Homo sapiens: one gene and its partner. The protein of the gene in region 1 interacts with the protein of each later gene in a biochemical or structural test. Each region holds a gene or a part of one and is shown in the gene's direction. Other genes may lie near its edges.

Region 1 (4,295 bases):
AGAGGGAAGGAGGGAGAGGAAGAGAACTCTGGGTGTATGACTGGCTGGCTGTTTCTCACTATTATTACGGTTTACCTCTGCAAACCTAAAAATGTATTGCAGCAGCATACTACATGCTCCATTCTTGAGTAGCCTAAAATATTAGTGGGACCAAACAAACAAGGATCTGAAAGTATTAGCTAAAATGTGACTCCCACACCTGACTTTCATTCAAGAGGACTGGAACATCCTGGCATGCCTGACCCCTAAGGGCTTGTCCCGGGAACTGAGATCAGTGCTCTTAGTTTACAGGTGGGACAGACACAGAAAGGAGAAATAGCTGCCCACAGCAAGGTCCAGAAAGTGGAGAAATGGTGAGATTAGAACTCAGGGCTCCAACTCCCTGCCCATGTGTCTCTCAGGGCTCGGGGCCCAAGGGAGCAGCCGCCCCATTTACCACACTCTGAAGACCCTACCACTGAGGGTGTTTACCACAGGACATCCCGGCTGGCGTTTCTGTTGGAGATCACCTGCTCCTTCTCCCCCGGGCCCTGCTCTCCCTGTCCCATAGGTAGCACTGGAGTGTGACGACGTGGCCTGCATCCTGTGGGGTGTTTGTGCTCGCCATGGCCAGCTGTGGAATGCAAAAACCACTCACCAACCCCACTCCTGCAGGTGCTGGTTAATTGCAAAACCAAACACCCTGCAGGAAAAGTCTGGAACTGACAGCTCTCTATGAGGAACGCTGGCTCATAGGAGGGGCTAGAGTCTTGGTGTATCTATATTTCATTTCCGATTCTGTGGTCAGTATTTTTCAGTATTTTGCATAAATACTGTTATTATTATTTTTGTTGTTGTTGTGATCTGTAATTAGCACCTTCCTGATATGTGTGGCTTACTCTTATTTCCATATAAATATATATAAATATACCAGTAGTTTTCTAAGGAAAAGAAGTTTCCTCTTATTCTTACTCATTTTAAAATAAATAAATAAAATTGAACATAAATGAGAAAAAAGAATTTTTAAAATCTTATGCCTACAGGAAACTTTAGATTGAGCAAAAACAAGGGCATGTGATGTGAATAATCCCAAGATTCCAGAACTATTCACTTTAAAGACAATGATCTATGGATGTGAGGCAGCTTTTGTCTTTCCCCCAAAATGTTCTCCTGGGTAGCCAGGGAGGCTGGCTGGAGGCTGTGCTTGTGGAAGGCAGCTGGTCAGAAATCCCACGTGGATGGGGATCTACCCCAAGATGAAGATCCCTGGCTTCAGGAATTGACTGAATGTGTTCCCACCCCTTTCAGATCCTACGCTATGGAGTACAGACCATGTGCGGCAGTGGCTGGAGTGGGCGGTGAAAGAATATGGCCTTCCAGACGTCAACATCTTGTTATTCCAGAACATCGATGGGAAGGAACTGTGCAAGATGACCAAGGACGACTTCCAGAGGCTCACCCCCAGCTACAACGCCGACATCCTTCTCTCACATCTCCACTACCTCAGAGAGAGTAAGCTCCCCCTTCCTCCAAGGATAGATGGCTGTGGCTATGGTTCTTATGACCTGAGCTTCAGAGGGTTCAACCAGGTGTGTCGACAGCATCCTCCTGCCCTCGCCCAGTTCCCACTGGGGATCCGAGGGAGCCACATGCTTGGTATGTGATGACTTAGGGGAGCAACACCCTGGCCACATCACCTGATGAGAAGTAGTCAGCGCTCTCAGGAGAAGCCAAAATTCACTTCAACACTCAGCTGCCTCCTCCAGGGTCCTGCGACCAAGAAGATGGAATGTCAAAGGGGAAAGGAAGCGTTAACTGGTCACACATTAGTTAAGTCTCCATGATACCCCGAATCGAAATAGAATCATTAAGGCTTCTCTTTCGTAGGAATTAGGGGGATTATTCTCCCTAAAGCTACATGAAGCCCCACTTTATATTCTAACCTGAGCACAGAACAAGGGAAGTTTTCACTTTGTATCATGTGATTCGGCTTAACCTGACAGAAAGGGATGGCATGTTGGCATGAATCCAGAATGTTTGCTGCATGCTTTAATTTCTACAACGTCCAGCATGGTGAGAAGGAAGTAGTGTGACAGACAGTGAGGTGGATAAATTCTCCTCCATTGCTTTGCCTGGCATCCCAACCACTTCTTCCCTGAATTAAAGACGGGCCCCCATGTAGGTTTTAACATGCTAACAAGTAGCAGGTTGCTGGAAATAGTTATAAGCTTCCCATGATGTTAGTGTGGGAGTGGGGGAACGGTTTTCTTTCTTTCTTTTTCTTTCTTTTTTTTTTTTTTTTTTTGTAAGAAAGGTAATTCTCTTTCTCTCTCTCTCTTTTTTTTTTCATTTTGATGTCGCTTTTTGTTTTGTTTTGTAGCTCCTCTTCCACATTTGACTTCAGATGATGTTGATAAAGCCTTACAAAACTCTCCACGGTTAATGCATGCTAGAAACACAGGTAATGCTGGCCCCGCCCCTGCCTCCCAGCAAGAGCGTAGGGTCTTACGTACAGGTTGCATGCTTTCATGGGAAACCAGTCAGCGCGTGCCAGGAAGACAGAACGCAGGTAGATGATTCAGAATACTTTCGGATACTTAGGAATGTACCACAGCCTAAAGGAAGGTGAAGCCCTTTGGTTTTCTGAGCGCTTCCCAAGCACCCCACTTTGATTATCAAAGGGTTCCTTTTTAACCAGGAGACGTGCAGAATTTGCCTTTAGCCATAACTTAGCTCACATTTGCCGGATTACAGTCTTCTTCTGTTGGTCCCAATATATTCGCTGTGCTGACTCTGTAGACACTAAAAGCATGTTCGATATAAAAGGGCCCTTAGCAACCTCCTTTAATTTTTTCCATTTTTATTCTTAAAGAAATATTTGCTAGGATAAGTTGGAATTTTCTTTTTCCTTTCCAATAAACTTTTAGGCTATTTGATTTGTTTTCCTACAGACTTTGTATGTTTGCAAAAGGCAGGAGGGAATTTCTGTAACATTTTGAGAGCTTTTGTTCAGAGGGAACCTCTGCTATAATTTTGGAGAATATGAAATTAGTCACTAACCAAATGCCTGTTTTCTATCTCTAACCGTTGCCTCTACATTTGACTTAGTTATGTATTTATTTTGCCTGAGCCTAAGTAGGGTTTAACACCGTGCCTCATCCTGGCTAACCTTCCTCCCTCGCCCCCCGCTCACAGCAGAGGCTGGGTTTTCTGTGGATGAATGTGTTCCTGGTTCACATCCATCTGCTCCTTCCTGATGGAGAGAGTTCCGGAAGCATGGCCACCGGCTGCTCACCCCACTCTGTTAGCTGCAGGGACCCTCCACAATCACTCGGGCTAGGGAGGGAGACGGGAAGTGCCAGAAAGCCTTGCAAGTCAGCCAGTTAACTCACGATCAGCCCTCACATAGAAATACGCAATTTTCCCAATATTTACCATTTTATTTTAAAATATAAAATGTGAGTGAGTCCCGGTTTGAGTATTACAATGAAATTGCTCATTTATCATGGTCTTCTATATTCAACACATTGTCTTTTTAATCTGAAGTTTTAAAAAACCTGCTTCGAGTTGGTAGTACACTTTTTCAATAATTTTGGTTGCACACATCAGCCTATTAGTGACCTTGTGGCCAGAAATAACAGATAACTTAGAGGAAGTTACTTCCCCTTCTTAGGAAACACCTTTGAGCTATGCACATTTTCTGATAATTTCACATTTATTTATGAGTTCTTTAACCATTGAGTGAAAGTTTCAAAAAAGCTCCAAATATATTAAATTTTGCTATTGTTAAACACGGAAGAAACCAATGAACAAGACAACAAATTCCAAATGGACTGAACTATGAAAAGGGAATTTTCTCAGCTAACAGCATGAGTTTTGGTCAAAAGAGAGAGAGGGAAAATGCATTTGAATAGAGATGTGGATTAATTATTAATAAAATCCATATACTCTTAGGCTAAATACTTATAATTGCTTGATACTACTTTCCAAAAGCTCTGTAAAATATATTATGGGTTTTTATACAAGTTGAAAAATAAAACATGTACCATATAATTTTTTAATAAAACGAGATTGCCCAGTGGGAAGTGGGATTGAGGGGGACACAGATAGGGCTTCATCAAGAAGTTATAAAATCAAAACACAAAACGCTTTATAGCAAACGGGGCACAGGAGTACACCAAGGCTCCAAGTTTCACTTCCATCTTGAGAATCTGACAGGTGCACCTGTCTGTTTCTCCGGAGCTCTGTTAAGGCAGGTTTGAGGAGGTCTCTTCCCTTTGTTGTCATAGGGAAAAGTAGATTTGGCGCTGATGTTG
Region 2 (4,773 bases), on another chromosome or scaffold:
CACAGCAGAGTGAGACCCTGTCTCCAAAAAAAAAAAAAAAAAAAAAAAAAACTTCTAAGAAAATATGATTAAAAAAAGAAACAGGCTGGGCACCGTGGCTCCCGCCTGTAATCCCAACACTTTGGGAGGCCAAAGCAGGAGGATCACTTAAGTCTAGAAGTTTGAGACCAGCCTAGGCAATACAGCAAGACCTCATCGCTACAAAAAAATAAAACATTAGCCAGGCATAGTGGCACATCCTGTAGTCTAAGCTACTCAGGAATCTGAAGCCGGAGGATTGATTGCCTGAGCTGGGGAAGTTGAGGCTGCAGTTAGCTGTGATCATACCACCGCACTCCAAATTGGGTGACAGAGTGAGATCCTGTCTCAAAAAAAAAAAAAAAAAAAGAAAAACAAAATTGTAGGCCAGGCGCAGTGGCTCAAGCCTGTAATCCCAGCACTTTGGGAGGCTGAGGCGGGCAGATCACGAGGTCAAGAGATACAGATCATCATGGCCAACACGGTGAAACCCCGTCTCTACTAAAAATACAAAAATTAGCTGGTTGTGGTGGCGCAGCGCCTGTAGGCCCAACTACTTAGGAGGCTGAGGCAGGAGAATCGCTTGAACCTGGGAAGCGGAGGTTGCAGTGAGCGGAGATCACGCCACTGCACTCCAGCCTGGCGACAGAGCGAGTCTCCGTCTCAAATAAATAAATAAATAAATAAAAATAAAAAGACTATTATTTTCAGATCATAAAAAAAAAAAAGAAAAAATTAGGCAGAGTGCAGGCATGCCTGTAATCCCAGCTCTTTGGGAGGCGGAGGCAGGAGAATCGCTTGAGTCCAGGAGTTCGAGACCAGCCTGGGCAACAGAACCAGAGCCCATCTTTACATAAAAAAAAATTAAACATGTAGCTTGCATGTATTTCTACTAGGGCATTCTAGGCCAGCGCTGGTTTAGAATGTTAGCCCAATAAGACCAGGTATTTTTTTTCTGCTCACTGCCCATACAGTGATTGACACACAGTAGGCGCTCAATGACATTTTAATGAATGAATGAGATGCTGAGCCTTCGGGAACTGGCTTGCTCAAAGAGCCAGCACCGATGAAGCGCTGACCACGTTCCATGCCCCGCCTCCTCAGCGCACCAGAGAAGGAAACTGAGGCCCGGCAAGGTGACGTCAGCTCCTGCCCAACGGCACGTAGTGCGGAAACGTCGGGGCCGGGATTCGAACCCAGGTTCTGTACCCGTAACCCCGGCGCGCTGACCTTTCCTACCTTACCGGGCGGCGGCAGGACAGACAGGTGCGGGACACACGGCGAGCGCTCAACCAGAGGCGCCGCTCCTCAGCCACCGCCTTCCGTCAGCCTCCGAGGGCCGGAACCCAGTTCGCCCCCTCCGCGGCCATCGCTGGCTGCCCGCGTCTCCGCCGGCCGCGGAGCACTTCGCAGGCGGCGCCGACCGGAAGTCCCGCCTCTCCCGCGCGCCCCGGAGCGCCGCGACAGCTACGCCGGCCAATGAGCAGCGCGCCGTGGCGGACGTCGGCCAATGGGCTCGCGCGCGGGGGGGGCGTGTCCGGGCCGCGGGCCGGAGCGGGTCGTGCGCGCTGAGGAGGAGCCGCTGCCGCCGTCGCCGTCGCCGCCACCGCCGCCACCGCTACCGAGGCCGAGCGGAGCCGTTAGCGCCGCGCCGCCGCCGCCTCCCGCCCGCCCCGGAGCAGCCCCGGGCCCGCCCGCCCGCATCCAGGTGAGGCGGTGGGGGGCCTTCGGCGGCGCCCGACGGGGTAGGCCGCGGCAGGCCTGAGCTCGCCTGGCCTGGCCGCGGGGCGCCCGCGGGCCTGCACCGGCCGAGGCCCAGGCCGCGCCGGACCGGGGGAGGGGACGCGCGCTGGGGCCGCGGCGGGCGGGTCGGGGCGGGCCGGTGTGGGCGCCGGCTACAGGCCCCGGGGCCGGATTCCTCTGGCGCCTCGAGGGACGGGCGAGGGGGATACGGCGTGGGCATGCGCCGGGGGGCCGGGCTGCACGGCCGGGGGCCCCGGTCGCCTTGGAAGCCCGGGCTCCGGGGGCGGGAGAGTGGGGCCAGCTACGGGGGAGCGCCGGGAACGCTTTGAGCGCGCAGAGGTCACGGCCCACGGGCTTGCTCCCCCGGGAAATCCCACAGATTCTTTTGTGGTCGTTGTCAGAGCACCGCGGCCGGTGCGAGGTCCTTTGAGAAGTGTGCAAACCCTTCAGTAGATACACGGGAGTCCTGGGGGAAAAAAAAAATCTAAACTGCATCTTTTTTTGAGCGCCATCTCTAACAAAGCTGTTTGTGGGGCGTGGGACGTTAGGATTTGTAAAATATGTGTGTGTGCCTGTTGGAAACACAAGCTGCACACAGTTGAACAATGGGGGATGGATGCCCTTCCTTCCTTTTCCGGTGCTCTGGGCTGCGGGGCTTGTTAAAATGGGTTTTGGTCCCTACTGTGTGCAGGGCAGGTGGAGAAGAACTTCTGCACAACTTCTGCATGGGCTTCCCGTGGTGGGACTGAGCCCCCTTGCTAGAAAGTGTTCATCTAAGATCCGGATGGCCAGAAATGGGAAGATGAGGAGAATGATCTGTCTAGAGCAGGGTTTCTCGACGTTGGCCCTACTGATGTTTGGGGTCAGATAGTTTTTGGTTGTGGTGGTAGTGGGGGCTTCCCTGTGCAATGTAGGAAGTTGAGCCGTATTCCTGGCCTCTACCCACTAGATGCCAGCAGTATCCCCATGCTCCAAGTCGTGAGGATCAAAAGTATCTCCAAACATTGCCAGATGGCTCGGGTTGCGGGGGAGGGGTCTCTTCCACTCTCACACGCACAGGTGAGAACCATTACTGAACTAAATGCTCTTCCTCCAAAAGTTCTAATGCCCTGGGAGATGCTCCCAAGACCTCGAACAAGCTTGACTCTGTTGAGCCTTAGTTTTCTTATCTATAAAATGGGAAGGACAAAAGTGTGGTGCAAATTGAAGAGGGTGGAAATCCCGTTGCGTTGTGCGTGGTCTGTGCCTGGTAGGCACTGAATAAATGATGTTGTACATAGCCACCAGTATTTATTGAGGATTTACTATGTGCTTGACACTTTGTGGACGTTTGTCTGCAGTCCTTGAGGCAGGTGATGTTATAATTTCCATTAATTTCCATTTTAGAGATGAAGAAACTGAGGCTTAGATGGGTCACTTGATGTGACCAGTCTCATGCACTAAAGTGGCTGCGCCAGGGTTTGAACTCGGGCCCTCTGATTCAAAACCCTTACTCTTAACCACTCGATTGTACTGCTCCTATAATCACAAGGCTCCAGGGCACTCCAGTTGTCATCGAATATTTTCTGTGTGCAAAGTTCTGTGCTGGGATCTATTATCAAATTCTGCAACTTCGAGGCCCACAAAGAGGTTGAGATACACGAACGTCTCAAATGTGGAAGGAAATAATACTGTTTATGTTGATGCATTGGTTTTGAGCAGACAGAGTTTCAGTCTGGATGTGTTGAGTCTGAGATCATGGTGCTATTTCTTTTTTTTTTTTTTTTTTGAGACGGAGTCTCACTCTGCCGCCCAGGCTGGAGTGCAGTGGTGCGATCTCGGCTCACTGCAAGCTCCGCCTCCCGGGTTCACGCCATTCTTCTGCCTCAGCCTCCCGAGTAGCTGGGACTACAGGCGCCGGCTACCACGCCCGACTAATTTTTTGTACTTTTAGTAGAGACGGGGTTTCACCGTGTTAGCCAGGATGGTCTCGATCTCCTGACCTTGTGATCCGCCCGCCTCGGCCTCCCAAAGTGCTGGGATTACAGGCGTGAGCCACCGCGCCCGGACCATGGTGCTATTTCTTTTTTTTTTTTTTTCTTTTTCTTTTTTTTTTTTTTTTTTTGAGACAGTTTCACCCTTGTTGCCCAGGCTGGAGTGCAGTTGTGCCATCTCAGCTCACTGCAACCTCAGCCTCCCAAGTAGCTGGGATTACAGGCAGCCGCCACCACGTCCAGCTAATTTTTTGCATTTTTAGTAGAGGTGGGATTTCGCCTTGTTGAGCAGGCTGGTCTCGAACTCCTGACCTCAGGTGATCCACCCGCCTTGGCCTCCTAAAGTCCTGGGATTACAGGTGTGAGCCACCGCGCCCAGCCCATGGTGCTATTTCAAGTAAAAGAAATGAGAGAATTATGAAAAAACTTTATGAAAATTTCTTGCCTCTCTCACTCTCCGCTTCCCATCTCTTCCCTCTTTCCACACTCCAGCAGGAGTTCTGTTCTGTAAATGCACATCTAATTGTATCCCTTCTGATTTAAAATCTTTGTGCAGAAAAAAGACACGTTTTCTTGACCTCTCTGGTGGCTTAAAAGATAAAGCTAGAAGCCCTTAGTTTGGAGTGCCAGTTCCTTCACACCCTAACCCTCCCCGCCCCTGCACGTAGACCCCAAACTCTAACCCTCCCTGCCTGTTGCAGCCTCCACCTGGAGACAGATCTCTTCCACCTGGAGATCCTTTGCTTATGCTCCATGGCTCAGCCCAGAGCTCACTGGCCGTTTGAAGCCTCGTCTGACTGCCACTCTTCCTCCACCCGCACCGGAATCAACTGTTCCCTCCTTAGTGTTCCCATCCCATTCAGTTTATTGAATCGAATTCAAGGCTGAATGGCGAGAGAAGCGCAGCGCCCGGCTGGCGCCCCTAGGTGGCAGTAGCGAGGCGGTGCGGCCGACCCGAGCTGTGGGTCAGGGGAAGACCAACGGAAGCCAGCCTGTGGGAGGGAAGTGAGGCTCGCTCCCTCCTCTGAACGACTCTCCC

What was found. Proteins that work in one complex are often made in the same cells at the same time.
Region 2: the proteins of ERG (region 1) and ELAVL1 form a complex in vitro, tested with the Homo sapiens proteins (one large-scale study listed by BioGRID).

What each region holds. Positions count from the first base shown.
Region 1 is NC_000021.9:38,400,702-38,404,996, reverse strand, and holds part of ERG (transcriptional regulator ERG), read left to right. Parts: intron 1-1,287; coding exon 1,288-1,491; intron 1,492-2,359; coding exon 2,360-2,440; intron 2,441-4,295. UniProt on the Homo sapiens protein: Transcriptional regulator. May participate in transcriptional regulation through the recruitment of SETDB1 histone methyltransferase and subsequent modification of local chromatin structure.
Region 2 is NC_000019.10:8,002,448-8,007,220, reverse strand, and holds the start of ELAVL1 (ELAV-like protein 1), read left to right. Parts: upstream 1-1,579; 5' UTR 1,580-1,726; intron 1,727-4,773. UniProt on the Homo sapiens protein: RNA-binding protein that binds to the 3'-UTR region of mRNAs and increases their stability.